Linked DNA regions of Homo sapiens. The protein of the gene in region 1 purifies or fractionates together with the protein of each later gene. This does not show direct contact. Each region holds a gene or a part of one and is shown on either strand. Other genes may lie near its edges. The genes, in order: GDPD5, STX8, ZMPSTE24 and ROBO1.

Evidence for each region.
Region 2: the proteins of GDPD5 (region 1) and STX8 purify together in Homo sapiens (co-immunoprecipitation; 3 studies listed by BioGRID and IntAct, with this or other methods). This does not show direct contact.
Region 3: the proteins of GDPD5 (region 1) and ZMPSTE24 purify together in Homo sapiens (co-immunoprecipitation; 3 studies listed by BioGRID and IntAct, with this or other methods). This does not show direct contact.
Region 4: the proteins of GDPD5 (region 1) and ROBO1 purify together in Homo sapiens (co-immunoprecipitation; 3 studies listed by BioGRID and IntAct, with this or other methods). This does not show direct contact.

The regions. Positions count from the first base shown.
Region 1 is NC_000011.10:75,445,616-75,453,657, reverse strand, and holds part of GDPD5 (glycerophosphodiester phosphodiesterase domain-containing protein 5), read left to right. Parts: intron 1-687; coding exon of another isoform or gene 688-842; intron 843-1,326; exon of another isoform or gene 1,327-2,325; intron 2,326-2,424; exon of another isoform or gene 2,425-3,265; intron 3,266-3,674; coding exon 3,675-3,773; intron 3,774-4,047; coding exon 4,048-4,141; intron 4,142-4,535; coding exon 4,536-4,681; intron 4,682-5,008; exon of another isoform or gene 5,009-5,166; intron 5,167-8,042. UniProt on the Homo sapiens protein: Glycerophosphodiester phosphodiesterase that promotes neurite formation and drives spinal motor neuron differentiation.
Region 2 is NC_000017.11:9,565,103-9,573,144, forward strand, and holds part of STX8 (syntaxin-8), read right to left. Parts: intron 4,836-8,042; exon of another isoform or gene 4,454-4,835; coding exon of another isoform or gene 4,396-4,453; intron 3,369-4,395; coding exon 3,269-3,368; intron 1-3,268. UniProt on the Homo sapiens protein: Vesicle trafficking protein that functions in the early secretory pathway, possibly by mediating retrograde transport from cis-Golgi membranes to the ER.
Region 3 is NC_000001.11:40,260,991-40,269,032, reverse strand, and holds part of ZMPSTE24 (CAAX prenyl protease 1 homolog), read right to left. Parts: intron 6,195-8,042; exon of another isoform or gene 6,071-6,194; coding exon of another isoform or gene 6,050-6,070; intron 1,248-6,049; coding exon 1,161-1,247; intron 615-1,160; coding exon 498-614; intron 1-497. UniProt on the Homo sapiens protein: Transmembrane metalloprotease whose catalytic activity is critical for processing lamin A/LMNA on the inner nuclear membrane and clearing clogged translocons on the endoplasmic reticulum.
Region 4 is NC_000003.12:78,665,208-78,673,249, forward strand, and holds part of ROBO1 (roundabout homolog 1 isoform a precursor), read right to left. Parts: intron 5,095-8,042; coding exon 4,889-5,094; intron 3,359-4,888; coding exon 3,277-3,358; intron 3,096-3,276; coding exon 2,927-3,095; intron 2,843-2,926; coding exon 2,676-2,842; intron 1-2,675. UniProt on the Homo sapiens protein: Receptor for SLIT1 and SLIT2 that mediates cellular responses to molecular guidance cues in cellular migration, including axonal navigation at the ventral midline of the neural tube and projection of axons to different regions during neuronal development.

The DNA.
Region 1 (8,042 bases):
CCACAGTTTTATAGTATGTTTGTATTTTTTTTTTTTTTTTTAGAGACAGTCTTGCTGTGTCGCCCAGGCTGGAGTGCAGTGGCACGATCTTGGCTCACTGCAAGCTCCACCTCCTGGGTTCACCCCATTCTCCTGCCTCAGCCTCCCGAGTAGCTGGGACTACAGGCACCGGCCACCAGCCCAGCTAATTTTTTTGTATTTTTAGTAGAGACGAGGTTTCACCGTGTTAGCTAGGGTGGTCTTGATCTCCTGACCTCGTGATCCGCCCACCTCGGCCTCCCAAAGTGCTGGGACTACAGGCATGATCCACCATGCCTGGCCTATAGTATGTTTTAATCATGAAGTTTGAGAGTCTCTGGTTCCCCTGGGTCCTGAGGAGGGGAGGACAGAGATGCTCAGGACAGGGTGAGAGGGAGCCATTCACAGCAGGCTGGGTGCTGAGTAGATCTGGTGCTTATGTGGGGACCTTCCTCCTCCTCCCCAGTCTGCCAAAATCTCCTGTTTCCCAGAAATCTCTCCCAGGTGAGTGTTCAGGAGAAATTGAGGTACCCAGGAGGTGAGGGAGCAGGCTGAAGGGTTCTTGGGAGCTTTACAGTAAACAGGAGGCCCTTTCCCTGAGATGCCCCCCTTCCTGCCCCACCCACCGCCCTCTGTGAGGTGTTTTGGTCACAGCTCACACCTCCCCAGGCTGCCCTGAGCACACTGCACTGCTCTTCTGTCCTCGCCTGACTCCCCTGCCTCAGTGGCAGCAGCCCCCAGCCCAGGACCTGCACAGAGGAGGCGTCTGTCAGCGACCCAACCTGAGCCCCAGAGAGGAGCACTGGGTACCACACAGCCCCAAGGCAAGTTACTGGCTGGGCTGGGGCTGGGGCTTCTGCCTCCTACCAAGGCTCCATCAGCCTCTACCTGCCATCTGCTATGTCTACTTCATCACCTCTCCTGGTGAATTCAGACTTCTCTCCATGCACTGGCCCCAGCTTTATGGTTTTTCCTGGTGTCCAGCCTCTGTCCCTCCAGCAGCAGCTTAAGGAAGGCGCATTCACTGAGCACCTCCTGTGTGTGCCAGGCACTGCGTTCACCATAACAGCAGTAACCATCCTTTATTGGGTGCTGACCACATGTGTCAGGCACCTTTCACTCAGAATTTCACAGTCATTTCACTCCTCACAATAATCCTGTTCCCATATCATGCTCACTTTTTAAAATGATATCACTGAGATTTAGTAAGCATTTTCTTCTGGCCAGCCGTTGTACTAAGCATTTCACTTGCATTTCCTCACTGATCTTCCCCAACCCCCTTCCAGGTAGGTACTCACTATCCCTATTTCACAGCTCTGGAAAGGTCCCTGGAGAGGATGTGGAAAGATCCCCAGTAGGTAGCAGAGCCAGGATTCGACTGAAGACCGTGATTCAAGTGAGGCTCTTAACCCTGGGCCAGCTGTCTGCCATTTGGACTGCAAAACCCAGAGGCCAGATACCCCTAAGAGGCCAGCTGTTGCACCTCTGCAAGGCGGGGTTCCACCTCCTCTCGGGTCCCGGCACCTAGGCCAGACTCATCGAATGAATGAAAGACTCTGTTGTATCCCCTGTACCCACCATGGCTATCACAAGCCACAGTCCCATGAAGACAGAGAACCCAAGGCCACTTTCTCAGAGGAGGACGGTGATCTGTCTCTGGGCCTCTAGGGTGGGATTCATCCTTCTCAGTCAGATTTCAGGAGCGATGGTGGTTGCGTTTTTGGGTGTCAGTGCTATTGCTATAACTTAATGATGCAAGGTAGGGAAGTCCCACAGACACTGAACATGCAGTGATGCTGCTGAGTGTGTTGATTAGCACCAAAGCAACTGTGGAACTCAGAGATAATAACATTTTTAATTGTATTAGGGTTTGGGGAATCAGTTTTATTGCAAGTCGTTTCCATTAATAGGTATTGTGATGAGATGCTCCTGGAAACCATCCTTAACTCACTGTGTGCAGGGCCACCTCCCACGATGGCCACAAGGGGGAGCTGCGCGCCGGGGGCAGCCGGGAGAAGGGGCCTGAGTGCCGAGGGCGGGGTTCTCAGGGGTTCGGAGGCGCAGCTGGGCCTCCCAGAGACTGCGCAGCCTCTCTGACACCAGCGTGCTGTCTGTCCGAGAAAGCGCACACCCCCTTACCCCCTGAGATGGGCAGAAGGTGTTCGTTTCTGGTTCTGCCCCTTCAAAGCTCCGTGACCCAGCCAGCTGTTCCTCTCCCCGAACCTCGCTTCCCGTGTGTGAGATGAGGATGCTCGTGCCTCCGCGGAACCAACCTGGGGACCACGCGAAGCGCCCCCACAGGCCCAGGCACGCCCATGCCTCTTCCCGCCCCGAGCCCCCATGTCACAGCCCTTCCAGCTCCTCACCTGCCTCGCTCAGGTCTCTTGGGGGAACATTTGTTTCCAGGCTGATGGGCTGGAATGAAAAGCCTCCAAAGGGAAACTTCATCCCAGGCGAGACTCAGCATTCCCCGCCGGCGAGTGAAGGTCCCTGGGTAGGGAGCGGAGATGCTGGCCACCGCCCCACCCTCATCGTCTAGAAATGCCACTGTCCCTGCTCGGCATCAGAGGGCCCTGGCCGCTGCTGCCTCTGGGAAAGGTTGCCTCGGGAGAAAGGGGGTGAAGGCCCTGCCAGCAGCTAGAACGGCTCCAGGGAGGCAGGGCGGCCGGCAGTGCTGTGGGAGAAGGACAGGCCTTTGGAGGGAGATGGGAGACGAGTCTGGAGAAACTAGGGGGACGGAGGTGGCGGCTTTGACTGACCCTTCCAGAGACTGGGATCTGCGGGAGGCTTTGGAGGAGAGCCACAACCTGGGCTTCGGGGAGGCACGCCTGGGGGTGTGGAGGGGGGTGGGTGGAGTGAGATCCACGGCTAGGGGCGAGGGGCTGGGGGCCGAGGAGCCGAAAACCTCTGCCGAGCTTCACGTGGTTAAAGATTTCAGGTCTTACCTGTCACCAGAGATCTCTGTCCCGTAGAGGTGCCACCTCATCCTCCATGAGAGCTGTGCTTTGCTTTCTTCTGGAGGCTGCAAGGAGGATGGCCCCCATCACGGCGGACCTAGATGCTGGGAGTCCGGGAGAGGGCAGGCCGTGGAGATGGGGCAGGTGGCGATGTGTTTCACCACCCACTCCCGCCTGAAGTGCCACTGTGAGCCCAGCCCAGGGTGCCAGGCTGGGCTGCACTCCAGGCTCCTGCAGCAGACCCAGTTCCTCAGCCTCCTTCCCCTGAGGCCTGGGCATGGCCTGGACAAGTGGGTTTCCTCCTCTGCTGTGCCATGCTGAGGTGGCAGGGAGGCTGGGCGGGACCTTGGATGTGACTAACCTGCCAGGCCCAGGGAGGTCCCCCTTACTGAATGTCCTCCCTCCTCACAGTTCCCTCCTCCTCCTGTCCCCATCCTCCCTTCCATTTCTCGCTGTCCCTTCCTCGCTGGGTCTGCCGGCCTCCTGCTGCCTCCTCCTGCCTCAGTCTCTCCCTGCCGTGTCTATCTGCCGGCCTCTAGTTTCCTGGCAGCCCATGCCTGTCTCTTTCCTCCCTCCCCTCTGCCCTGCTCCATCGGCCTCTCCTGCCCTCTCTGTCTCTCCCTCTGGCTCCTCTCTCAGACACACTGGGAACCCTCCCACCCGCTCTGAGCCTCTGTCCGGTGACTCTTCCCCCTCCAGATCGGGCTGGTGGTCATCCTGGCTTCCACGGTGGTGGCCATGTCGGCCGTGGCCCAGCTGTGGGAGGACGAGTGGGAGGTGCTGCTGATCTCCCTGCAGGTGAGTGAGGAGGGTCCCCCAGGACCCTCACAACAAGAGCCTTTCTGTCACTTCCCTTTCTCCAGACCAAGGCCCAAAGAAGGGCAGGGAGGCGCCCAGGGTCACAGAGCAGGTCAGAACTAGGGAGGACACCAGGGTCCTGAGGCTCCCAGTGTCCCCAGTTGGCAGATGGAGACAGGGTTGCCTGCCTCATAGGTAGAAGTAGGAGGCTGGTGACACAGGGTCTGGGCAGAGCTGGGCGTTACTGGTCTCCCTTCCCTCTCCCTGCAAACAGGGCACAGCGCCATTCCTGCATGTGGGGGCTGTGGCAGCAGTCACCATGCTCTCCTGGATCGTGGCAGGACAGTTCGCCCGCGCAGAGCGGACCTGTGAGTAGAACTGTGAAGGGCCTGCCCCTCCAATCCCTGCAGGTGCCAAGACCAGCTGGTGCTGCCCCGACCTGGGCTTTCCCTGGGGGTGGCCTGGGGATGGGGTGGGGCCCCTGCACTCAGTGAGGGGGATTCTGGCTCAGAGTGGCCCACAGAGTCCACGGAGGGTCACAGCTTCAGTCGGCCTCACACTGTATTCCTCCTCCATGTCTCTCTCTCTGCATGTATGCACCTGTGTCTGTGTGAGTTAGAGGCGGGGTTCATCTTCCCAGCAAGAATAAGGGCTTCCCCCTAGAGCACCTGGATCCTGACAGGTCGGGGGTAGAGGGGTCCAGCATTGCACCCCAACCTGCCCAGGGCTCACCAGGCAGCACTCACGGCCCCTTATCTGCAGCCTCCCAGGTGACCATTCTCTGTACCTTCTTCACCGTGGTGTTTGCCCTCTACCTGGCCCCTCTCACCATCTCCTCTCCCTGCATCATGGAGAAGAAAGACCTCGGCCCCAAGCCTGCTCTCATTGGCCACCGCGGGGCCCCCATGGTGAGTGCCACCTCAGGGTCCTAACAGCCCCGTTGGGGTGGGGTGCGATGGGGGGGACCTTCTTGGGAAATGGATATATGTAATGGTAGCAACCATTTGTAGCTTTTTGAGGGGAGGTACATGGGAAGGACTGGCAAAAAGGCCGGGAGTGCTGGGATGGAAGCACATCTTGAAGCGTCCTGAAGGCATCTTGCTAAAAAGATTTCAGTTTTGTCCTAAGTGCCCTGCAAAGATGCAGGAGGGTTTTAGGCCCAGGCTAGACCCAGGTGCCAGTTAGGAAGGCCCAGGAGATGGATGCTGAGTGTGGGGCCTGGGGTCTGCCACCAGGCATCAGGAGAACCCTCCAGGAGAGCTGGGAGGCAGCTCAGAGCCCACTGTGACAGTGAGTACGGCTGAACCGACGTGAGTTGGAGAAAGACGAAGGGATCAAAGTCAGCGCCGCATTCTGCCACCAGTGCACTCCATAGCCCTGCAGGAGAGCTTCGGTGAGAGGGCAGGCTCCAGAGCCATGTTGCCTGAGTTAGCATCCCAGCACAGCTCCTCACCAGCTGTGGGAGGCCCAACAGTTTCCATCTCTTTGCCTGGTTCCCCCATCTTGTACCATGGGACTAGTGAGAGCACCTGCTGTGGGGCTATGAGGAGCAGGAGTTAGCATGTGTGCAGTGCCCAAATATGCACATGGTGCACAGAAAGTAAGAGGCAGACACTGCTGTTACCTTGGGCAGGGCCATCTCTCTGGAGCAGGGTCTCCTGCTCCATGAAAGCCTTGAACCCAGGCTTCTTAGCAGAGGTAGTACACACCCCCACCCTGCCAAGTGGGGGTGTGTGTGAGCACTTCCTGAGGGCTTGGCTTCCTGGTGTTCCAGGCTGTTGTGGGACCTCAGGGTAGTAAGGGGGTCTCACATAACTGCTTTGGAAGGAGGTGCTGGGTCTGCCGGGCTGCCACTCACTCTGGAAGTCTGGCCCCCTGCATGTGGTGGGTATTATTTTCTCGATAAGACTCCAGCCCCTGAGCCAGACTCCAGTGCTGACCCCAGTCCCTCCCAGAGGCAGCCAGTGGGGATCTGGATCTGGTGTCCAGTTTGGCCACATGCTGCCTGTGCATCTTGGAGGGGTCACCAGTCCCCTCTGTGCCTCAAAGGTATGGATGCCCATGCTGCTGGTTATTGTGAGGACCAATTGGAGCCCAGCCTTCCCAGTGGGGGCAGGGGAACTCTTCTGAGGGGCTTAAAACGATGGCCCCTCCTGTCTCCATGACTCAGATTACCATCTCCTGGGCTCCCTCCAGCAGCCAGGGGACATAAGTGGTATGCTGAAGCAGGAAGGTGGCCCCAGCGAGGATGGTTTTCTTTAGTAGAAAAAGGTCAAATATATGCAGAAGTGGAGAAAAGCATATAATGACTCACATAATGAAGAAGGATGTAATGAATCCAATCCCATACTTATCTACGTTTGGCCATTCTTGCTTCATCTGTTCCCTACTTTTTTTTCTGGGGTAGTAAAGCAAATCTTAGGCATCGCATCGTCTTACCCATAGGCACTTCAGGATGTATCTGTAACACATGAGGACTTCAGAAAGATGCATAGCAACAATGCTGTTATTACACCCAGCCAATATTAAGGATAATGATTCCTTAATATTATCTAAAATGGAATCCATGTTCAATTTCCTTTTATTGTCTCGAAAATATCTTTTTACAGTTTAGTTGTTAAAAATCAGGATCCAAATGTGGTCCACAGCACGCATCTGGTTGGCGTGTCTCCTGAGTGCCTTTTGATTTGTAACAATCCCCCGGCTGGGCTCAGTGGCTCATGCTTGTAATCCCAGCACTTTGGGAGGCCAAGGCAGGCAGATCACCTGAGGTCAGGAGTTCGAGACCAGCCTGATCAACATGGAGAAACCCCATCTCTACTAAAAATACAACATTAGCTGGATGTGGTGGTACATGCCTGTAATCCCAGCTACTTGGGAGGCTGAGACAGGAGAATTGCTTGAATCCGGGAGGCGGAGGTTGCAGCGAGCCGAGATTGCGCCATTGCACTCCAGCCTGGGCAACAAGAGTGAAATTCCGTCTCAAAAAAAAAAAGTTCCCCGTCCCTTTTTTCCCTTAAGCTGTTTATTTGTCCTGAGAAATGGAGTCATTTGTCCTGTGGGATTTTTCACATTCTGCATCTGACTGATCATGCCCTGGTGGTAGTTTTTGAGGGGCTGGCAAGGGTCCCCTCTGTGTGTCCCTGTGCATTGCCTTGGGGGGCTCTGACTCTGGGTCCACATGTCTGTGTGTGGTGAGCCCAAGTGCACATCTCTGTCTTGGAGACTGTCTGTGTGTCCCTGGATGTGTTGTTCCTATGCAGATGTGGCCTGTCCCTCTGTGCATGTGTGTACGTGTACTTTAATATTTGATTGCACTAACTCTGAAGCTAAGACTCTTTTTTAATAGTACTTTGAGTTGCTGTTTTATAAATCTGGGTCTCTTAACCATAGTGTCCCACCCACCTGAGTAACCACCACCCCCCTATGCACACCCTCCTGACAACAGAACCCCACTTGGACTGGCCTGAGGCAGGTGCGAGCTCTGAGACGGGGACTAAGAATTCACCCCAGCAACGTGTATGCTTCTGGGGCCTTCCTGGAGTCCTGAGCCTGGCCAGGGAGGGCCAGGTTTCCATATCTCTTTCTCCAGGAGGTCAGCACCTAACCCAGAGAGAACTTAACTGTGTCTAAAAGCTTCCAAAAAAGACTTTCCCCTTCCCAAACACTTCCTCTGCCCTGAGGGTCTTCGCAACCCCTTCCAAGCTTCTGCCTTCTGCAGCCCCAGCCCATGCAGCAGGGAGCGTGGACCCCTGTCAAGTGGTCCCTGATGGAAGGCCTGGCCGCAGGATATTCAGAGATGGGTGGGATTCCACTGAGTCCTTGCCTCTCTCTCCATGCCTTTGTAGTCCTGCTTCCCCTGGGAGTGCCTCACACAACCCACTGGACTGGGAGACAGGTAACATGTCCTCCAAGAGTGCTGTATGCCAGGGACAGGAGAAGAAAGAAACTCATTACTGAGACCCTGCTGTGTGCCAGGTCCTGGGCTAGGGTCTGTGACTTTTGTTATCTCACCTGTGAGGTTGATAATGTTAGCCCATTTTACAGCTAAAGAAACTGAGGCCCCAGCTCTGTGTCTGGGAAGTGAAATTGCACCTTTTTAGTCCGTTCCAAAGCCCTCACCACTCCCTGGCTCCCCAGTGCTAGGCTGTGTCACAAAAGAGGGGAGTGGCTGGGGAACATCGTGGCCAGAGGGAGAGAAGGTGGGAACAGGATTGTCTTCAGTGGGAATGAATGAGATCAGCCATGGGAATCCTTCCCACCTCACCT
Region 2 (8,042 bases), on another chromosome or scaffold:
GAGGCTGAGGCACGGGAATCACTTGAACCCGAGAGGCAGAGGTTGCAGTGAGCCAGGATCGTGCCACTGCACTCCAGCATGGGCGACAGAGCAAGACTCTGTCTCAAAAAGAAATAATAAAATAAAAATAACATAGCTGGAAACATCATGCTACCCAACTTCAAACTATACTACAGGGCTACAGTAACCAAAACAGACATAGACCAATGGAACAGAATAGAGAACTCAGTTGACCAGGCACAGTGGCTCACGCCTATAATCCCAGCACTTTGGGAGGCCGAGGCGGGCAGATCACTTGAGGTCAGGATTTCGAGACCAGCCTGGCCAACATGGCGAAACCCTCTCTCTAATAAAAATACAAAAATTAGCTGGGCATGGTGGCACACACCTGTAATCCCAGCTACTCGGGTAGCTGAGATGCAAGAATCACTTGAAGCCAGAAGGGAGAGGTTGCAGTGAGCTGAGATCATGTCACTGCACTCCAGCCTAGGTGAGAAGAAACACCGTCTCAAAAAAAAAAAAAAAAAAAAAATAGAGTACCCAGAAATAAGGCCACACGTACAACTATCCGAGCTTTGACAAAGCTGACAAAAACAAGCAATGGGGGAAGGATTCCCTATTCAATAAGTGGTGCTGGGATAACTGGCTACCACGTGCAGAAGATAGAAATTGAACTCCTTCCTTACACCACATGCAAAAATTAACTTCAGATGGATTAAAGACTTAACTGTAAAACCTAAATCTATAAAAACCCTGGAAGACAACCTAGGCAATACTATTCTGGACATAAGAACAGGCAAAGATTTCAGGACAAAGACATCAAAAGCAATTGCAACAAAAGCAAAAATTGACAAATAGGATCTAATCAACTAAAGAGCTTCTGCACAGAAAAGGAAACTATCCACAGAGTGAACAAACAACCTACACATTGTGAGAAAATATTTGCAAGCTATCCATCTGACAAAGATCTAATAGCCAGTATCTATAAGGAACTTAAGCAAATTTACAAGAAAAATCCACCCCATTAAAAAGCAGACAAAGGACACGAATAGACACTTTTCAAAGGAAGACAGGCATGCTGCCAAAAAAAACAGGAAAAAAAGCTCAACATCACTGATCATTAGAGAGGTGCAAATCGAAACCACAATGAGATACCATCTCACACCACTCAGCATGGTTATTACTAAAAAGTCAAAAAATAACAGATGCTCGGGAGGTTGCAGAGCAAAAGGAACACTTATACACTGTTAGTGGGAGTGTAAATCAGTTCAGTCATTGTGGAAGACGGTGTGGCAATTCCTCAACGTACTAAAAACAGAAATACTATTTGATTCAGCAATCCCGTTATTGGGTATATCCCCGAAGGAATAGAAATCATTCTTCCATAAAGACACATGCATGTGGCCAGGTGGGGTGGCTCACACCTGTAATCTCAGCACTTCGGGAGGCCGAGGTGGGTGGATCACCTGAGGTCAGGTGTTCGAGACAAGCCTGGCCAACATGGCGAAACCCCATCTCTACTAAAAATACAAAAATTAGCCAGGCATGGTGGCAGGCACTTGTAATCCCAGCTACTCTGGAGGCTGGGGCAGGAGAATGGCTTGAACCTGGGAGGCAGAGGATGCAGTGAGCCGAGATTGCACCACTGCACTCCAGCCTGGGCAACAAGAGCAAAACTCCGTCTCGAAAAAAAAAGAGAAAAAAAGAGACACATGCATGTGTATGTTCACTGCAGCACTATTCACAATAACAAAAGACATAGAATCAACCTGATGCCCACCAATGGTAGACCAGACAGAGAAAATGTGGTACATATACACTATGGAATATTATGCCGCCATAAAAAAGATCGAGATCATGTCCTTTGCAGGAACATGAATGGAGCTGAAGGCCATTATCCTTAGCAAACTAATGCAGGAACAGAAAACCAAATACCGCATGTTCTCACATTCTGTAGGTTGTTTGTTCACTCTGTTGATATAAGAGAGAGCTAACTGGTGAGAACATATGGATACATAGGGGGACATGACACACACTGGGGCCTAGCAGAGGGAGGAAGCTGGAAGGAGGAAGAGGATTAGGAAAAATAGTAAGTGCTAGGCTTCATACCTGGGTGACAAAATAACGTGTACAACAAATCCCCATAACACAAGCTTACCTATACAACAAACCCACATATGTACCCCTGAACTTGAAAGTTAAAAAATAATTCTAATAACTTTGGAACATAATAACCTCAGCATTCTTAGTAGATTAGTCTACACTTAAAAAGACTCAAATTTTGAACTCAGTGTTTGTCGTGGTACCTTATAGTAATTTTGAAACCATTTTCTGTAAACTGTAAAATAGACCAAATGAGTAAAAACATACTGATGCTTTTGGAAACTAGGATTCTCAGTGTGAGAGAAAGAAAATACAAATTTGGAATGTGGAAAATAAGGAAGAAAGGTGTGGTGTTAGATTTGAATCAGAGGCTTCTATTTTCAATCATAGTCACAAGTATAAACTTGTGATTTCACAAAAATCTATTTCTTAGCCAAATCCCACCACTGTTTTTATACAGCCCAAAACTAAAGATGGTTTTTACATTTTTTTCTTTTTTGAGACAGGGTCTCACTCTGTTGCCCAGGCGGGAGTGCAGTGGCACGATCTTAGCTCACTGCAGCCTCCACCTCCCAGGTTCAAGCAATTCTCCTGCCTCAGCCTCCTGAGTAGCTGGACTACAGGTGTGTGCCACCACGCCTGGCTAGGTTTTATATTTTTAGTAGAGATGGGGTTTCCCCATGTTGCCCAGGCTGGTCTCGAATTCTTGACCTCAAGCAATCTGCCCGCCTCAGCCTCCCAAAGTGCTGGGATTACAGGTGTGAGCCACTATGCCTGGCCTGTTTTTACATTTTTAATGTAAAATGTAAAAACTATAACTATTCTTGTGGTGAGAATGGAAACTCAAAGACTTGAAGACATTATCTCTTGGCCTGCAAAGACTAAAAGATTTATTATCTGTAGGAAGTTTACTAACCCCTGAACTAGACTATAAAATTGTTAGAAATATTTAAAGTAAAACAGGAGAACTTAAATGTGTTATGCCTCATTTAGTCTCAATGATTACATCACTACTAACTGGTTGGGTGTTATGTCAATTCAACATATGTAAGCAGATAGATCATCATACACACATGTGCACAGACAGCCTCAAAGAAAGATAGGAGGGTTTTCAGGCCTCAAAACTCAAACAAATCATTGGGTACTAATTCCTTCATGGTATTACCTTTGGTGCCTTTTCACCTTTTCTTTCATATTGATTTCGTTGTTGAATTTTCTCAGCAATTTCTTGGGCAATTTGACAAGTAGAATCGTATGTGGAGAACCTGCACCAAAGTCGTAAAAAGAGAAAATGTTTAAGGTTCTTTTTTTTTGAGACGGAGTCTCGCTCTGTCGCCCAGGCTGGAGTGCAGTGGCACGATCTCAGCTCACTGCAAGCTCTGCCTCCTGGGTTCGCACCATTCTCCTGCCTCAGCCTCCCCAGTAGCTGGGACTACAGGCGCCCGCTATCATGCCTGGCTAATTTTTTGTATTTTTAGTAGAGATGAGGTTTCACCGTGTTAGCCAAGATGGTCTCGATCTCCTGACCTCGTGATCCGCCCCCTCGGCCTCCCAAAGTGCTGGGATTACAGGCGTGAGCCCCTGCACCTGGCCTTAAGGTTCTTTAAAAGAAATTTTTGCATTGTCTAAGTTTGACATTTTCATTCTAGCCAAAGAATTCAAACAGAGGGGAAGAATAATAACATGACCAGTAAAAGCAACATGGACTGAGCGTTATTTACCATGTGCCAGGCACTATTTTGAAGGCTTCGTTAGTAATAACTCACTTAATCAAAACAGGAACGCTATGAAGTGGGTACCATTACCATCTCCAACTCACACATGAGAAAAGGAGGCACAAAGAGTTAGAGTGACTTGCCCAAGTGGTTCTGCCTGCTGCAAACCAAGGCCGTCTGGCCCCAGAGCCGGGGCTCTTAACAACTGTGCTGTTCTGCCAATGAGAAAGCATGTGGGGGGTCTCCGCTGCACTGGGCACTGTTCTGGGCACTGGAGAAGACGGCAGTAAACAGAATGAACACAGTCCCTCTTTCAAGGAGCTCATATTTTAAGGAAAGAAAGTCATAAAACAATTAAATACATAGTATGTCAGGTGTTGATAGGTGCTAAGAAGAAAAACGCAGCAGGATAAAGGGACAGAGAGTGATAAGGAGCTGCTACTTAGGATCAGGTGACACCGAGGCAAGGTGAAGAAGCTGGGCTTGCAGATGCCTGGGGGCGGCTCTAGGGTGCAGGAACAGCAAGTATTGTCTAGCCTAAAACCAAATGCTCCGGGGACAAAGGCCACACACCCACCTGACATCTGAGCTTGCCAGAATTCTCTCAAAACATTTAATAAGCTTCTAGTTGTCATTCAGCAGCGTTGGAGGCTTTGAAGGGTTCACGGTGAACTCCCAATAGCCCCTTATGTTTTGCTTCTCTCAGAGCATTTTTACTTTCTATCATATAGAAAATACTTAAGCAGACCGGATGCGGTGGCTCACGCTTGTAATCCCAGCACTTTGGGAGGCCGAGGCGGGCAGATCATGAGGTCAGAAGTTCGAGACCAGCCTGGCCAACATAGTGAAACCCCGTCTCAACTAAAAATACAAAAAATTAGCCAGGCATGGTGGCGGGTGCCTGTAATCCCAGCTACTTGGGAGGCTGAGGCAGGAGAATCGCTTGAACCCAGGAGGCGAAGGTTGCAGTGAGCTGAGATCACACCATTGCACTCCAGCCCGGCGACACTGTGAGACTCCATCTCAAAAAAACAAACGAACAAAAAAACGAAAATACTTAAGCATGCATACACATTTCATTTCTCCTATCAGACAGTCTGCTCCTAAAAAGCAGAGACTCTGTGGACTAACATGACCAGCATTATCTTCCAGGACCAGTCCATCACAAAATATCAGAAACTCCTGTTGCCCCTAATGTCCTAATTTTTGCTTGAGTAAACAATATATTTTTTAAAACCTTTCAATTCCCACATATCATTTGAACACTGAGGGAACTTGATAAGTGTTTTTTTTTAAATGAAGGAAAATGCGCCCATCAATTCCCTTAGGAATCTTACTAGAATAATTATAGCAATAGTAACAGCTGAGTACCTGACCTGAGCCAGGTCCTATACTAAGAGCTTTACACTGTAAACTTCATAAGGATCCTGAGAGAGGATCCTGAACCACTAACCACTATACTGTAAAGCAGCACCATTCATGTATATATCATATATATATCACACACATTCACATATATCATATATATCACTGATACATATATTCATATATATCACATACCTATCGTTTATATCATATATACTATATATTCGTATATGTCACATGTATATCATTCATATATATATATTCATGTATTTGTGTGTGTAGGGAAAAATAGCAGTGATACAAGAAAACACAGAATTAAGAAAACAGGAGGCTAATAAGGAAAATTGGGTCCTGGTCCAAACTTTGCCACATTTCACTTTTTTTTCCTCCATATTATCATGAAAAGAGGAGCCTAGGTCTGGCTCTGGGGTCCAGACCATACATATAAAAATCATCCACATATGGTAAGTTTTGCCTCCTGCCAAATGTGGGATCTAAGTGGTAAGTACGTCTGGAGTTCAGAGGTGGAAGAGATTACTGCTGACCAAGGCACTCAGATGGAGAGGGTCCATGAGGTTACATCTGGATGACCACGAAGTTAAAGCAGGTCTCTTATTCAGACAGGAGGGAGGAGCACATTCTAGACTTAGTGAAAGACAGGGCGAGCAAAGATGAATGGAAGGAAACGTGCCCGGCACATTTGGCTGCGTGGTGGCCCTGGAAGCCTGTTAAGTATAAAATGGTAGAGATGAGTAGAAGCTAGTTTCTGCAGAGCCTTGAACACCAGTCTAACAAGGTTAGACTTAAAGGAGAATTTCAGAGCCATAGAGAACACTTTTACACACAGAGAGTGGCCCTAAAGAGGTTATGAGAAATGCACACAGCTAGCACAAACTCCCAGGTGTCCTGACTCCAGTCCTTGTGTTGTTATTTTAGCCCTAAAGAGCAATAGTTCTGAAACAAGTTGGAATCACTGGGGAATCTTTAAAAAAATAACAATGCCTGGTCCCAACCTCAGCATTCTGACTCAACTGGTATGGGGTTTGTCCTGGGCGTGCGTGGGGAGCTTTAAAAGCTCTCCAAGTGATTCCAATCTGCGGTAAAGTCCGGGCGGGAACCCTTGGCCTGGGGCAATAGACAACCTCATTACACTATCAAGCACACAGGTGCCTGAAGTACTAGTTTAGAAAAAGTAATTGGGTCGGGGGGTGGCTGAGGCAGGAGAATCGCTGGAACCCGGGAGGCAGAGGTTGCAGTTTGCCGAGATTGTGCCATCGCACTCCAGCCTGGGGGACAAGAGCAAGACTTTGTCTCAAAAAAAAAAAAAAAAAAAAGTAATCTGGGCCGGGCATAGGCGTAGTGGCTCACACCTGTAATCCCAGCACTTTGGGAGGCCAAGACGGGTGATCACCTGAGGTCAGGAGTTCAAGACCAGCCTGGCCAACATGGCAAAACCCCATCTCTACTAAAAATACAAAAATTAGCCGGGCATGGTGGCGGGTGCTTGTAATCCCAGCTACTCGGGAGGCTGAGATAGGAGAATCACTTGAACTCAGGAGGCAGAGGTTGCAGTGAGCCAAGATCATGCCACTGCACTCCAGCCTGGGCGACGGAGCAAGACTCCATCTCAAAATTAAAAAAAAAAAAGGTGTGGAGGGTAGAGATGAAACAAGAATGGCAGAATATTGATAATCACAGAAATTGGGTGGTGAGTATGAAAGGGGCCCATTATACTATTCTAGTTTGTGTATCTTTTACCTTCCAAAATAAAGTTTTTAAAAAGCAATTCAACACAAAGAAGACCATGCTACCAACATAAAAAGTCCAATCAGGATATAAAACTATTAAGGTTTAACTGTAATTTTTCTGGAAATGGTACATCATCAACAAATTAGTTACCCTGGAGGTAAAGCTAATTAACATTAGCAAAGAGCCAGTTCAGAGACAGTGATCATGGGCTCCTTCTGTTAAACAGCGAGCTTACCACTTGCTTTGATAGGCCATTAAAATAGTAACTGCTATATTCCATTGCTAGACACTGAGGGAGGTGCCAATGACCTATGATTTTAGCAACACAAAGGTAAAGCTGTAGTTGAATCTGTTTTTATAGGTTGTTTTTGTTTGTTTGTTTTGTTTTGTTTTGACATGGAGTCTCGCTCTGTCGCCCAGGCTGAAGTGCAGTGGCGCAATCTCGGCTCACTGCAACCTCCACCTCCTGGGTTCAAGTGATTCTCCTGCCTCAGCCTCCTGAGTAGCTGGGATTACAGGTACACACCAACATGCCCAGCTAATTTTTGCGTTTTTAGTAGAGACGGGGTTTCACCATGTTGGTCAGGCTGGTCTCGAACTCCTGACCTTATGATCCGCCTGCCTCAGCCTCCCAAAGTGCTAGGATTACAGGTGTGAGCCACCACACCTGGCCTTTTATAGGTTTTTCAAGTCCCTTCCCATACTCCTTTCTACCCCCCTAATCAGCGACCCATTTTGTGCTTTGGGAGCACAGCTGAGTGTCTCACTGTTTCACTCTCAATAGTCCAATGAGAAAGCCACTTCATCAAACTAATGAAGTATAACAGAAAAAGTCTCAATGCTTTATCAACATTAACTGCGGAAGAAGCTTGGGGTCCAGTGATAGCTTCCACCAATCTAAATAGATAACTGGGGGCCTGTCCCTTATCTTTGACCTTTATTTCCTACTTGATTTGTAAACTGAGGGATTTAGGTTCCAGAAGGTGGAGGGCAACTTAGGAATATGTATTGTAAACCAAAATAAAATTCTAAGCCCACCCCCAACACCCCCCCCCACCCCCGCAACCATCTGAACGGACCCCTACTCTAAGGCAAGGGCATTCCAAAGTT
Region 3 (8,042 bases), on another chromosome or scaffold:
GAGATCTCAGCTCACTGCAAGCTCTGCCTCCCGGGTTCACGCCATTCTCCTGCCTCAGCCTCTCGAGTAGCTGGGACTACAGGCGCCCACCACCAAGCCCGGCTAATTTTTTGTATTTTCAGTAGAGACGGGTTTCACGGTGTTAGCCAGGATGGCCTCGATCTCCTGACCTTGGGATCCACCCGCCTCAGCCTCCCAAAGTGCTGGGATTACAGGCATGAGCCACTGGGCCTGGCCTTAAGTATTTTTTTTTTAAAATCAGTGTTGACCAGGTTGGCCTCGAACATGTAGCCTTGCCTCCCCGAGTGCCAGGGCAACTGGCCAGAGCCACCGCGGCCCCCAAGACTTTCAGCTATGATCTTTACCATATCTGTAGTTCCCTTTTTTCTCAATTCATACTCTGAAATAGTAAATTATGTTTAAATTATAAACAGTACAGGACAAAAGCACAGAAGTTTTTCACATTTAAAAGAGAACATTTGTATTCTTTATTATACCTGTTGATTGAAGCCATGTTTTTCTTCTATCACAAAAGTATTATAAAGACTCCATGGCAAACCAGTCAATGCACTGAAAAGTGTAGCCAACAGCAGAAACACCAGGGACTGAGTGATCTAAACAAAAGAAAAAACAAAAATCCAGTTTTTATGAACTACTGGCAAACAAATCAACAAGTATTTGCTGAGCACTTACTTACTACATCCCAAGCAATATGCTTGATTCTATGGATAACATAAGGTCTGAAATATCATCCCTGCCTTCAAAAAAGTTTACTTTTGAGAGAAGTAAATGAGAAACAAAACAATTCCTTTTTTATTACACAGGCACTATATGAAAGGTACCTTAAATCATACAGACAAATCCCTAAGATAAAGAGCCTGGATTCTTGGCTTACCACATGGAAGAAAGTCACCTGATAACTAAAAATACTCACACTGGACTATTACGTGATTGAGAAATAAACCATTGCAAATAAGCCTGTGATATTCTGGGATTTGTTATTGTAACTAATGTTATGCCAATACAGCATGGGTAACCAAGGACTATGCAAACAGAGAGGCAAATCTTAACATTGGCAGAAGCCAAAAAATTAACTTTAGTGGAAAGCCTGCCAAGCTAAAAGAAATACCATGACAAATACATGCTAATGAATCACATACCTCATATTCTGGTCCAAAGCCAGCATAACCACAGAACCGTCCAGAAAGTCTCCAGAGATAAGGTATTCCTCCAAAGAGAAGAATAAGCTATAAAACAAAGCATACTTTGATCACAGTTGAACAGTACTAGAAACTATCATATGAGAAAGCATGGTATAAAGAAAGAAAGGACAAAATAATCATCTCTATTAAAAAAACAAAAGAGGCCAGTACGGTGGCTCATGCCTGTAATCCCAGCACTTTGGGAGACTGAGACAGAAGCATCGCTTGAGGCCAGGAATTCAAGACCAGCCTGGGCAACAAGGTGAGTTGAGACCCCATCTCTACAAAAAATTTAAAAATTAGCTGGGCCTGATAGTGCGTACCTGTAGACCCAGCTACTTGGGGGACTGAGGTGACAGGATTGCCTGAGCCTGGGAAGTCAAGGCTCCAGTGAGCCGTGATTGTGACACTGCACTCCAGCAAGGCAATAAACTGAGACCCTGTCTCAAATAAAATAAAATAAAATAAAATAAAATAAAATAAAATAAAATAAAATAACAAAATAAAATATTTTTTTAAAAAATAGACCTATTTCACATTTAGCATAAATTATGCATTTAGATGAGTACTAACCATTGAGATACTAAATTTAGGTGGTTAATATAACATTTTTGTCTGTACACTATATATGGATGAATTGTATGGTATATGAATTGTATGGTACATGAATTATCTCAATAAAGCTGTTCTAAAACAAAACAAAAAAAAACCTTTTGTCAAAAGACCACAACAAAATCACAAACTAAACTTAGAAAGGTTAAACAGCTGGGTATGGTAGCATATGCCTGTAATCCCAGCACTTTGGGAGGCCAAGGCAGGCAGATTGCTTGTGCTCAGGAATTCGAGACCAGCCTGGACAACATGGTGAAACCTGTCCCTACAAGAAATACAAAAATGAGCCAATTATGGTGGCATGATTCTGTGGTCCCAGCTACTCGGGGGAGCTGAGGTAGAAGGATTGCTTGAGCCTGGGATGTCGAGGCTGCAGTGGGCCATGATCGTGCCTGCACTCCAGCCTGGGTGACAGAATGAGACCCTGTCTCAAAAAAAAAAAAAAAAAAAAAAAAAACTTGTTCGAAATCCAACAGCTAATGAGTGATAGAAATGGAATTTGAACCACATTAATATGGCTCCATAATTGTCTTTTCTGTGAAAGAAAATAGTCCTTTTCCATCAGAACAAAGCACAGAAGTGGAGAGTCATGTCCACTTACTAAACTGGGGAACAGAATGGGATTATCTGTGTCTTTGCTGGGTCAGGAAGAGGTGAGGTAGGGGCCCGGCTTTCACAGGAGAAGGCTCTTCCTCAGCACCACCCTTTGTCTTGGTCTTGGGCAGATAAAGTGAACACAGACATTCACTAAATAACCAGGACATTAGGAGCTAGGAAGCAGCTCAAAATTTGAGAAGAATGCATGTTTAAGAATTCTACCGCCCAAAACACATACAACTTTGTGGAACTCATTTGTCAAGAGGAATCAATTTATTTTTTCTCTCTGTAGGACAGCAGCTTAGGAACACAATGATCAATCACATTCCTTGACTAGAAGCACAATATTCCCACTGGTTCAGACATAGTTCCTCATGGTTTGAGGGGTTTTGGTACTATCATATTTCATGGGTACCCTTCCAATCTAATTCCCATTTTCATACATGTATCTACAAATAATATAGTGATTTATGTATGCTTTTAAAGAATGTATATAAATGACATCATATTATACTTATCAGTCTATGATTTGCTTTTTATATTCTAAATTTTCTTAGATCCATCCATGGTGGACTTCAACTTTATTTGGTATTATCAGGATATTTCCTAAAGTGTTTATAACAAATTACACTCCCATCAGCAGTACTCCAGTGTTTCTGTTTTCCCACAATCTCACCCACACTTTAAACTATCCATCTTTTAGACTGTTACCAGTACATTGGATTGGTTTAATATCATGGGTCTCAAATATGGTCTCTGGACAGCAGCAACAGCATCTGGGAATTTCTTAGAAATGCAAAGTCTCAGGCCCTACCCCAGATGTACCAAATCAGAAGCTGGAAGTGGGGCCCAGCAGTTTCTAGGTAAACCTGATGTACACTAAAGTTTGAAAATCATTGCTTTAATAAATTGTTTTCTTTTTTTAAGAGACAGAGTCTCACTCTGTCACTCAGGCTAGGGAGCAGTGTTATGATCATAGCTTACTGAATTTTTGAACTCCTGGGTTCAAAGGATCTTTCCATGTCAGCCCCCCAAGTAGCCAGGACTGTATGCACCACCATACTTGGCTAATTTTAATTTTTTGTACAGATGGGGTCTCACTATGTTGCCCAGGCTGGCCTCAAGCAGTCCTCTCACTGTGGCCTCCCAAAGTGCTGGGATTACAGGCATGAGCTACTGCACTCAGCCCCAATAAATTGCTTTTCAAAAGGCTCCCCTAACACTACCTCCAGGTATTTCCACTTTACTACAACTAATTCAATCTTAGACATAAACCTTGTTTTCCCAAAAGACATGCTTTGGTACCACTGTCTGACATATGCTGTAGTTGTTGATCTAATTGACCTGGGATGGTATTTCTTTCAGCCAATTCCCAATACTAATAAATAATGTATAATTAAGGACTTATAATGCTTTTAGTAAAGGCCACAGCAACTATTATTAAAAGTCCAGTATTTAAATAAGCATCAAGGGTAGTTTTAATATGAATTCTGAATGATCTATAAATGCATTTGAAAACTGATACTGCAAACCTTTTGGGGACTGAAAAACAAAGCATGTTTAGTTTCTTTTGGGGACTGAAAAACAAAGCATGGTGAACTGTACAATGTCTCTATGTTGACAATTTCACTAAGCATGCTCCCAGGGTTGTTCTATGGCAAAATTAATGATCCCAGAAAAAATAATTCCAGCGCTTTGACATATATTATTTCACTACATTCTTTTTTTTTTTTTTTTTTTTTTTGAGACAGGATCTCACTCTGTCACCAGGCGGGGGTACAGCAGTGTGATCACAGCTCACTGCAGCCTCCATCTCCTGGGCTCCAGCAACCCTCCCACCTCAGCCTCCAAGTAGCTAGAACTGCAGGTGCACATCACCACACTCAGTTGATTTTTTAAAAATTTTTTTGCAAAGATGGGGTATCACTATGTTTCCCAGGCTGGTCTCAAACTCCTGGGCTCAAGTGATCCTCCCACCTGAGCCTCTCGAAGTGCTATGATTACAGGATTGAGTCATCATGCCTGGCTTCACTACTACAGTCTTGAAAAACAGGCAGGGAAAAGGGTATAATCATCTCTATTTAATAGATGAGGCAACTGAAACTCTTTAACTGAAAGGTTACTTTAACTGAGAGGTTGAAGTAACTTGTCCAAAGAAACCCAATGACTAAGTAATTCCTACGCATTGAGCTTCATTTACGCTATCTCACTCACTTAGTCCTTGCCACAAACCATACAAGGTATGGCTTAACATCCACACACTTCTTATTTTATTTTTATTTATTTTTGAGATGGAGTCTCACTCTGTCACCCAGGCTGGAGTGCAGTGTTGCAATCTCAGCTCACTGCAGCCTCCACCTCCCGGGTTCAAGCAATTCTTGTGTCTCAGCCTCCTGAGTAGCTGCGACTACAGGCATGTGCCAACACGCCAGGCTAATTTTTGTATTTTTAGTAGAGACAGGGTTTCGCCATGTTGGTCAGGCTGGTCTCAAACTTCTGACCTCAGGTAATCCGCCCCCACCTCGGCCTCTCAAAGTGCTGGGAATACAGGCGTGAGCCACCGTACCCAGCCCACTTCTCATTTTAAAGATGAGAAAACTTAGGCTCAAGAAGGTGAAACTGCTCACATAGAAACATGCAAAAATTAGAGAAGCAACAATTTAAACTTTTCGACCCTGACCTACTCTGCTCCCCAGCCATTCCATTTCTTCAGTGGGCCCTTTATTGATATCTGTGAGATATTAGAGAAAGTGTCTCAGAGAGGCTGGAATTTTCTGTCTGGGTGCAGTGTCATATTTATGTGAACAGTGGCAACCATAAATGGCCACACAATGACTCTATTTAGGTTCCCTCAGGTAGAAAGTACTACGGCAAAAAAAAAAAAAAAAAAAGTCGAAGCTAATCTTCTCACTTGATCTCTGTGACCAAAACATACAAACCTATTAATTCTAATCAACACAAAATAGAAATTAATGAACTTGTTTCCAAACAAAACAAGGTTTCAAAGTTACCCAAAATATTCTTCCTGCCAAGCATAAATGCAGCCAGAAAATCCCCAGAGATAAATTTAGCACATTCATGTTGCAGTCTTTAGAGTTTCAAGAATGGATTTTTCAATGTCATTTTAAAGACTCAGCAGAACAGAGTTTGAAACCCAGTTATCCTACTTATTAGCATGTCCCTTGGCAATTAAACATGCAAACCCTTTAATTTATCCAAGCCTTTGCTTCCTCATTCATAAGAAGGGAATAATAATGCCTATCCTTTCCACTTCACTGTTGTAAACATCAAACAATACATATAAAAACTATGTATGAAGTGAAAATCATGACGACTATTAACTATTACTGTTCCCAACCTTAGCCCATCAGTACTGCTTCTAGTTTGAGCCACAGTACATTACAAAGCTCTCACTTTATATATGTATTCTCCCTATTTCTGTCATCCCCTAGAACAAACAGCCATTCCTATGGTCACCAACCATAATTACCAAGCTACTGTCTATCTTTCCTGGCACTATTTACCAGGGACAACCAAGGAGATTGAAAATGCTTTTCCTATTATTTTACTATGGCCCTGTAGTGGGTAAAGTCAAAGGACTTCCAAGAAGCAAACATCAGAAAGAGAATAGTGTCTACCTCATCTAATTGCCTTGTCATTATTAAACAGAGAATTCAGACTTTTCAGAGATGAAGAAAATATGGGAGCTATTAATCAGTATAGAACAAGAACTCTTGAGTATTACTTCTTCAGGTAGTGTTGTTAAGTTGTTCAACAATTCTCTGGAACTGGTGAAACAGAAGGGGAAATGTCAGTTGACAAAACAGCAAAACTCAGCCGTCAGACATCAACTGCAGAAAGAAGAGGCAAATACACTTACCAAGCAATGGAGGGAAAACATGCAAAATATTAAGTCAAGTTTGGAAGCAACTAGCTTTTGGGGAGAATGATACATTTAAGATCTTGGATATGTTTAATGTATTTTTTAAAGTTACTATAATTCTTTTTTGAGCTCCCTTTAGTCTTTTTTGGACCAAGGCCATTATATAAATACATAAGTAAACTCTCTTTCATCTATTTAAAAAAAAAAAAAAAAGAATAGTGTCTAAATTAACCACTTCTACTTCCATCTGTCTCTGAAGGATGATTTCCTACTTGTGACATGTCCCTAACAGAAGCAATGCTCAGATAAATTAACTAAAGCCAAGTCTTTATTGAAAAGATTACTTAATAGCAATAGCTGTGTATCCCCAAAGCCAATGAGACTTTGTTTTCCAAATCATTTATTAATTTTTCTAAATACCAAAATTTAACTCTTCTAGAAGCATTGCCATTTTCCATCACCTTGAAGAAATAAGTGCAGTTTCTAATAATTTGGATCTAACCACACTAGTCTTATTATTCCATACTTGTTAAGAAAAATTTTGTGATGAGCTAGACAATTCTGTCATTTACCACAGCTACATAAAGCCAGTTTCTTTAACTCATGAAACAATGATGGTAGCTGATCATAATTCTTTTAAATTTAGGAATCTTTCTCTTAGTGGTACTAGTAGATCTAAAAGTTCTAGAGAAATGATGATGATGATGATCAGGATGATAAAAATAAAAGTGGCAGGGCACAGTGGCTCATGACTGTAATCCCAGTACTTTGGGAGGCCAAGGCAGGCAGATCACGAGGTCAAGAGATCGAGACCATCCTGGCTAACATGGTGAAACCCCGTCTCTACTAAAAATACAAAAAATTAGCCAGGTGTGGTGGCACGCGCCTGTAGTCCCAGCTACTCAGGAGCCTAAGGTAGGAGAATCGCTTGAACCCGGGAGGTGGAGATTGCAGTGAGCCAAGATCGTGCGACTGCACTCCAGCCTGGGCGACAGAGCAAGACACTGCTCAAAAACAAAAACAAAACAAAACAAAAAAAGCAACAAAAAAACCCCACATTATTTCATTCAATAAATAGGAACTATATGCTGATTACATGCCAGGCACTAGGTATAAAATGATGAACAAGACTTAACTATTTCTTTAAGGAACTACCAGTCTGCCAATTAAACAGTCAAATCAGGCCAGGTACAGTGTGGCTCATGCCTATAATCCCAGCACTCTGAGACGGTATGGTGGCATGCAACTGTAGTCCCAACTACTCGGGAGGCTGAGGTGGGAGGATCATTTGCGCCTAGGAAGCAGAGGTTGCAGTGAGCCAAGATCACGCCACTGTACTTCAGCCTGGGTGACAGAGCAAGACTGTGCCAGAAGAAAAAAAAAAAAATCCAGGCAAATTCAACATAATGAGATAAGTACTCTGACAGGAATAATGATAGAATGCTACCCTATCCACATTCGTCAGGCAGGGAGTTTCAAATGGTTGCTTAGAAGACATGACATCTCAGCTGGATCCTAATGGAAGAGGATCTTTTTCCTACCTGGCTTCAGGGTAATAGTTCCCATATTCTATAGTTTTCAACTGACTAAGCAGTTATGTTTCTGTCTTTTTTGCTCCACAGCCGTTACTATCAATAACAAAGGTTAAGAAAGCATTCTGGGACTTGTAAGTGTGGTACCCTCTTTTGTGTTACAAAAATATGAAAATGAAAACAACCAGACAGACTGTCTCTCCAAGAAGTAAATTA
Region 4 (8,042 bases), on another chromosome or scaffold:
ACTGAATAGTTCTAAGTAAAAAGAGAAAAATTACTTGATCCAGGCATAATTCTAGTGCCAGCTAAGACTACATTTGTTCTCTTGGCAACTGTATCCGTCAGTCGGTTCAGATGGGTGTTTTATTTTAAAGTCAGATCACTCCGAAAGCCCTGACACACTCACATATACTTCCCGTAAGCCTGCTGTCTTTAGTCTATCCTTTTACAGCTAATTTTTTAAACCCAAGTTCAAGTACCAGACTTTTTAATTTGCTCTATTAACTTTAATAGTTAGCACTCTCCCATCAGTCCAATCTGTTGAGTTATATTTAATTCTGATTCTCTTATTTGGCATACTAGCTGTCTTTCTCAGTTTTACGACATCCACAAATTTTATGAACTTCCTTTACTTTTAGTCCTGACACTAAAAGAAATACAAGTCCAATAACAGATTTTATGGGATAAAACAGAAAACAAATCTGAATCTTATATACTTATATATTGATTGGTTAATGTATTCTTTGTCCAATCCCGAGGAATGGGTATGTTTAGCCCCATTTTATAGGTGAGGAAACTCAGAAGGGCTGACTAGCTTGCTCAAGGTCACACAGCTAGTGGATTGAGGAGCTGAAATTTAAAAAAAAAAAGTCTTTGATTTCACAACTGTATGCCTGTTTCTCTATATTTCCAGTATTCCAGTTAACAAGGATTCATTATACTTAGAGTGATGTGGTTTGGCTGTGTCCTCACCCAAATCTCATCTTGAACTGTAGTTCTCCTAATCCCCATGTGTCACGGGAGGGTCTCGGTAGGAGGTAACTGAATCATGGAGTAGTTACCCCGTGCTGCTGTTCTCGTGATAGTGAGTGAGTTCTCAGGAGACCCGATGGTTTTATAAGGGGCTTTGCTCACTTTTGCTCGGCACCTCTTGCTGCCACCATGTGAACCGGGACGTGTTTCTTTCCCCTTCTGCCATGATTGTAAGTTTTCTGAGGCTTCCCCAGCCATGCTGAACTGTGAGTCAATTAAACCTCTTTCCTTTATAAACTGCCCAGTCTCGGGGAAGTTCTTTATTAGCAGCGTGAGAAGAGACTAATACATTGTTCCACTAGCTATGCATATGCAAAGGCAAATTGACAGAAATGTTAAAAAGACTAAATGAATGTTCAGACAGAATGCTAACTTACTGCTCACTTACAAATGAGGTTACATATTCCAGAATCATGCATGTGAGTACAGGACAAAACGGTGTTAAGCTCTAGTCATCAAAACCTTTCAGTTAGAGTCTACTGGCTGGAGACCACTGTACTGGGGACAAAAGTTTAAATTCATTTTATAGCTATCATTGGGTCTACATTCTTTACAAATGTGTATCTAATATCAAAAACCTCAGACTGCCTTAAGGCAGGCTGCAAGTATAGTAAAGCTCCTGGAGAGGTGATTCATAATAGCAAATATGAGCTATGGGTGTGTTACATTCACACAAGAGACAAACGTGGGCATGTTCTACAACTTGGTGTGCTTTTTCTGCAAATTCTGAAACAAAAAGTGCTTCCAAAAAGACTGTTTCTGTACATACTTGAAGTAACAAAACAGCAACATGGCTGGCAGACCCCTCTCCCAAACCAGCAGCAAAGGACTTTAAGTCTCAGTCATCTTGTGTATAACTTGTTTCTATTAAAATAACCAAGTCTATTTTTTTTTCTTTTTTCCTTTGTTCCCTTAAGATAGAAACACTATCCCTCTGTATGTTGAGAAAATAATTTTATAGTTCGAATCACTCCCCTCTAGAATTACCTTTCTTTACTAATATAAAAACAAGCACATTTTATTTACAATGACGTGATTTTTTTCCAAAAATAAAAGGTATCCAGATATCTCTCATATTTATGTGATCTCAAGAGAGTATTATTTGATTAGGGTTGTAATCTAAAAATTCATCCAGAAGGTTGTGAGTACTGAACTTATAAATAAATAAAATTTGGTTAATTTTAAATACAATTATAATATGATTAAGATTGTACACCTACATGTTACCATATTTAAAATTCAGGAAATTGAATAGAATACACAAATATTCACATATTTTTAAAATTTATGGGTACTAACAGGTGTATATATTTATGGGTACATGAGGTATTTTGATATAGGCATACAGGGCATAATAATCACATCAGGGTAAATGGGGTATCTATCACCTCAATCATTTATCCTTTGTTTGTGTTACAAACATTCCAGTTATACTTTATTTAAAAATGTACAATAAATTATTATTGACTGCAGTCACCTTGTTGCTATCTAATACTAGATCTTATTCATTAGATCTAACTATTCTTTTTTTTGTACCCGTTAACCATCCCCACCCTCCCCACAGCCACCCTACTACCCTTCCCAGCCTCTGGTAACCATCATTCTACTTTCCATCTCCTCACGTAATATTTTTGTCTTGATATATTTGTAATTTTATGAGAAACAGTTCTCTTTGTTAATCCATCTTATGTTGGTATGCTTAGTCCAGAAAATAATAAAGTTTGTAGACATTGTGTTTGTATATTAAAAATTAATTAAGCAACTTGGGCAACTTGAACAACACACTGTAAATGTACAATTCTAGCATGTAGCACAAGTGATTTGTCAGTGCAATTATAACATCTAAGGATAAGTAGGTGTCACAGGTTTAAGTAAATCAATATTTACCTTGTGTTTTCACTGGATCTGATATTTGGCTTGGATCACTAATTCCATATGCATTAGCTGCCCTCACAAGGAAAAGGTAAATTGCATTAGGTTTGAGTCCTTTAATGGCAGATGTTTCTGTTTTCACATTCTCTGCTACGGTCTGCCAGCTGCTACCAGATGCATGGCTAAGGATAGACACACAGGTTAGAACATGCGTATTTAATGGAGAATCAAAAAAGAACAACTAGGAAGCATCTCCTTCACTCTACCTGAAGGCTTCTATAATATAAGATGTTGGAGTTGCTCCTGAATTCAAATTTGGTTGCCACGATAATGTGACTGTATTTCTGCTGACATCTGTCACTTCAGGTTTTGATGGGGCACTAGGGATTAAATTTGGGTCAGTAGGTCTTGGAGGCTGAACTGGAACTCCAAATTCTAAAAAGCAGGAAAAAGGCCAAAATAAAAGATGTTTACACATACACAGATAAGCGGATAAATGCAGATAACATATTCATACACCTACTCAGGGAAGAGGACATTTACTTCATCAATATCCCAGTAAGTAAACAACTGCATTTTAAGCTTCACTTTAAGGGAAACACACCATTTACTTTACCTTGAACTTCAATGTAAGCACTCCATGTTGCTTCACCACTGGGGGTTGATGCAATGCAGGTGTACCGACCAGTATCACCCAGCTGAGAAGGCAGACAAAAAATAAATATTTGGAAAAATCAAGAACTCACTGGGCTGGAAAAGCAATTACAGGTTTGTATATGATCCATGAATATGGATAACTGCATTAAAATTCACTAACCAGAAACTTCCCCTTAGTTGAATATATTTTTATTGAATGTGAAGGAAAATATTACATCAATATAGAAAAAAAGATTTTATATGATTGTTCTAATGGTATAATAAGAAATATTTAATTGCATTAGCATATATTATCATCAGTCTCAGGGACAATAATTCCTAAGGTAAGGCATACAATTCTTCAAATTTAGAGCGTTAATATTTATGGCTAAGATATATCTTTATGTTTAATAAGTTATATAATAAGGCTGATAAAGTTTAACCAATGCCTATTCTTGCTATTTCATATTTTACTTATATATTTAACTATATGGATATATGAGATCAACAGAAAAAGGATAGGCATCATAGAATTTTTTTCTTAAACTACTGACTTTTCCGGGTTTTAAAACTTGTAACTTAAGGCAGTTTAAGAAGTACAAAGCCAAACTCAAGCTGGAACGAACACTCTCGCTCCCTTTTAAAAACTGAATGTCAGAAGGCAAACATAGGTTACATGTTCAACTTTGAAATCAGCAGCAGGATAATAAACCCATCTACTTCTGCTCAAGCTAATAACTATCTTCAAGTAACATTTGATAAAGAAAGAATGTTGTCATCTTGCCCTGGCAATTGCAGGAACCAAGTCACAACAGTCACAAAGCAGCACAACATATTAACTGTTGTGGCACTTAAAGTGAACTGTGATGCTGATCCAATACTCCAAAGGAACCACCCACACTAGGAGATAAAGCAACTGAAATTCATGTTTATTGCTGTCAGGACTATTCTTTCATATGCCTCAGGAGCTCGTCTGATCTTGACATAAAAAAAGAAGAAAAATCAAAACAATAAAGTCCTGAAAGAGCAGGCATGGGATATGATGCCCTGTGAAAGTAAATCCTTAAATGGTTCCTACAGACCTGTGGGCTTTCCATCATTGAGCATTCTGATTTGAATTGTACACTCGGTGTGTACATTGCTTTATGGCTTTTGTTTGCATGTATAGTTTTGCCATTGCAAAATGCTGAAACAAACACTTACAATAGAAGAACTATCTAAATATATTGCACATAAAATGATACAGGTAAATATCTTAAAAGATGCTTTATGGAAGGACTGCTTCGTACCACTACTTTGAAGATATTTATTCTCTCACAAACCCTCATTTACTTTCCTCGGTAGGTTCTTAGAAATCCTTTCTTCTCCTCCATACAACCTTAAATTACCTGCCATGGACTAAATTATGAGTTAAATCATCTCAAACATATACAATGAAATATCTGAAAAAAATAAAACATCAAATTAAAAATATATTACTACTCTTCATTTAACACTTCATTAATTGCAAAGTTAGAAATTTCAATGCCAGTTGTTGGAGGCAGAAACAAAGTGAAACAAAACAAGAAACGCAAGGTGCCATTCCAAGTTACCTTAGCATATCGGATCTGCAGTACTCCATTCTCCAACTGTTTGATTCGAGAGTCTTGGGTTGAAACGAGGACTCCATCCTTTCTCCACAGAATGGTGGGCACTGGACTGCCTGTGGCCACACAGCTGAGGACGAAAGTGCCATCCACGGCTACAGTCTGATTCACAGGACCTTGTCGAATAACTGGGGGAGGCCGATCTGCAATCACTGCCAGAAGAAACAACAGGAAATAGATTTCTGCAACTGGAAGCAATTTTCTAATCATCCAAGCAACAGCAGTTGTTCTAGGCTTTGAAACAAACTAAAGATAATTAAACAAGTAATTAAAGTAGCAGACATGCATTATTCAAAATGCATTTATATGATGCACTGATTCAGAATACTAAAATGAGACACAATGTGCTACTTTCAAATGACCAGCCACTCACTGAGCTGGCTGCATCGTCAAGAGGCCTATTTAAAGAGTTCGGGAATTAGGATTGTGGATGGTGAAGTAGATACAGAGACGTGATCATGGAATACTGTACTTTTTAAACTCAAAAACATGAAAAAACACAACATAACAAAAAGACCATTCCTCTCAAGGAAACATATGAGATAAATTTTAATAAATGAAGCAAAGCCAAATTGACATTTCATAACTTGTACAACAGAAAAAAAGAAACAAGGTACCATACCAGCATGTTTAACAATTTTGGATCCAAAAAAGTGCATTGGATTTCGTAATTTAATAAATCAGTGTGATTGAGTTCCCTGTGTCTTTTTATCTTGTAATTCTTTCTATTACAATATACATGGGAGAAAATTACCCAACTGTAATGAATTCAAAGAAATTGGAAAATTGCCCAAATACATTGTTGTTTGGCTGATCCAAAGAGACAAGTCAAAATGATGTTCTAACTTGGCAAACACCATACTTCTCTATTGGGATTAATGGGATTGGGAATGTGCCTCTGCTAACTCCGTTACCTTAGATAATAGTTATAACATACTACGGAAAATAACAACGAGAGGCAATTTTATTATGTGTAAATACAATTAACCCTATGATTACATGAAAAAAATCTAAAATCTAAAAACTTTATCTGACATGAAGTCTTTTTTAGGGGAAAACATAGAACAACTGTGTTGGAACTAGAATAAATCCTACATTGAAGAGGTGTTCCCATCCCCTGACTTAGGCAATTTATATGAAACTCTATAGTTTTTTTTTAATGACTTAAAAACCAAATTTCAGAAATTTTCTTTAAATATTCAACTTGAAAATTCTGGATGTTAATGAAAAATTTTTAAAAGACACAAATGTACAAAGAAAGATTCTAAGTTGCCTGGTTAAAGAAAAGTGGTTGTCAGAGTAACTAAATTTTGGAAGCAATAATTTTCAAAGCTGGATCTGTCATGTTCCAAGCTTTATGCACCAAAGATTTTCACAAGCTGGAGTCACACTTCAATTTGCTCCTCATTTGTCATGCAATAAATATTAGTTTTGTGCATGCAAACTAAAAAAAAAAAAAGAAAAGATAAACAGGAAAGCAATGGAGTGAAATCAGCAGCTGTGCATTTCCACTCTACTCTTCCAATTCTCTTCTTTGTCTTGGTTACCAGGGTGAAATTTGCAATATCAAGGGGTGAATTAGAAGGCTAGAGTTTGAAACTTGGCAGAAGGAATATTCTTTATAACTGATTATAATTAAGTCCAGTAGAAGAATGGTTTAAATTTGGTAGTCTTATCATATTTAGAAACAATCCAATATCTGGGAATATATTCAATGTTCTCTATCTTTATGGTTCTTTGATATTTGTATTTTATTTAGTGTCATCCACACCTCCCCATTCCATCCCAAACCAGTTATTGATGCCATTTTTGTGGTATAATTTACAATGTATACTTAACAAAAATAAAGCAATAAAAGAAAAAGATCAGCTCTAGCATCTGCCATATGTCTTTGGGCAAGTTCCTTAAATTCTCTAAGCCTCAGTTTTGTATTGTTTTTAAATCCATCAACTAAGCATAATAATATTTTTTTCTAAATAGCTCAGGCAGGGTATTGTTATGCATATTTAAATGGAACAGATAAGGGAGTGCTTGGCTAATTGCAAAAGGCTAGACATATTATGTACTGTAGTATCACTAGTGTCCTCTTTGGTAAAAACAACAACAACAACAAAAAAAACTATTATGTAAATCAGAGATGAAAGATTTGGCCGGGCACTGGGGCTCACGCCTGTAATCCTGCACTTTGGGTGGCCAAGTAAGGTGGATTGCTTAAGCCTAAGAGTTCAAAACCCACCTGGGTAACATGGCAAAACCCCATCTCCACAAAAATAAAAATAAAAATAAAAATAAATTAGCCGGCCATGGTGGTGTGCACCTGTAGTCCCAGCAACTTGACAGACTGAGGTGGGAGGATCACATGAGCCCAGGAGGTTAGGTCTGCAGTGGTGGACTTTGATCAGGCCACCGCACTCCAGCCTGGGTGACAGAGTGAGACCCTGTCTCAAAAAAAAAAAAAAAAAAAAGAGAAATATTTAAGGGTTTATTAAAGCAATTTGATGTTTCCAGGTAGAGAAATGAAAGTTTTTGATGTCATGAAGTAGAATAAAATACTCGTAAAATGTTTACACTTACAGACACCAAAGAATGTACTGCATTTATGAGTCAAATCTTAATTTAGAAGGAGACAAACCTTATATTCAGGTCTAGGATCTTCTGTTGGAATTATTAGAATGAATTATCCAGAAATAAAATAGGAAGTGTAAGAATCAGAAATGTTTAACAAAGTGATTAAATGCACGGACTTTGGAGTCAGAAAATGTTAGCACCATACAACAGAAATGTTCCATATCTACAACAGAAATGTTCCATATCTACTCTCTCCAATACAGTAGCCAACAGCACCAAGTGACTACTGAACATGTAAGTGTAGCTAGAGTAATTGGGGAATTGGATATGCAATTGTATTTAATTTTAAGTAATTTAAATTCAAATTTAAATAGCCCCATATGGTAAGTAGCTACCTTATTGGAGGGTGCAAACATGTCAGTTCTGCTACTTATCATTGTAAGTTGGGTACACATCTTCACATTCACTGCCTCAGTTTCTTCACTGGTAAAATGAGATATGGTTAGATTTGAAATTGTTCATGTGTGAAAAG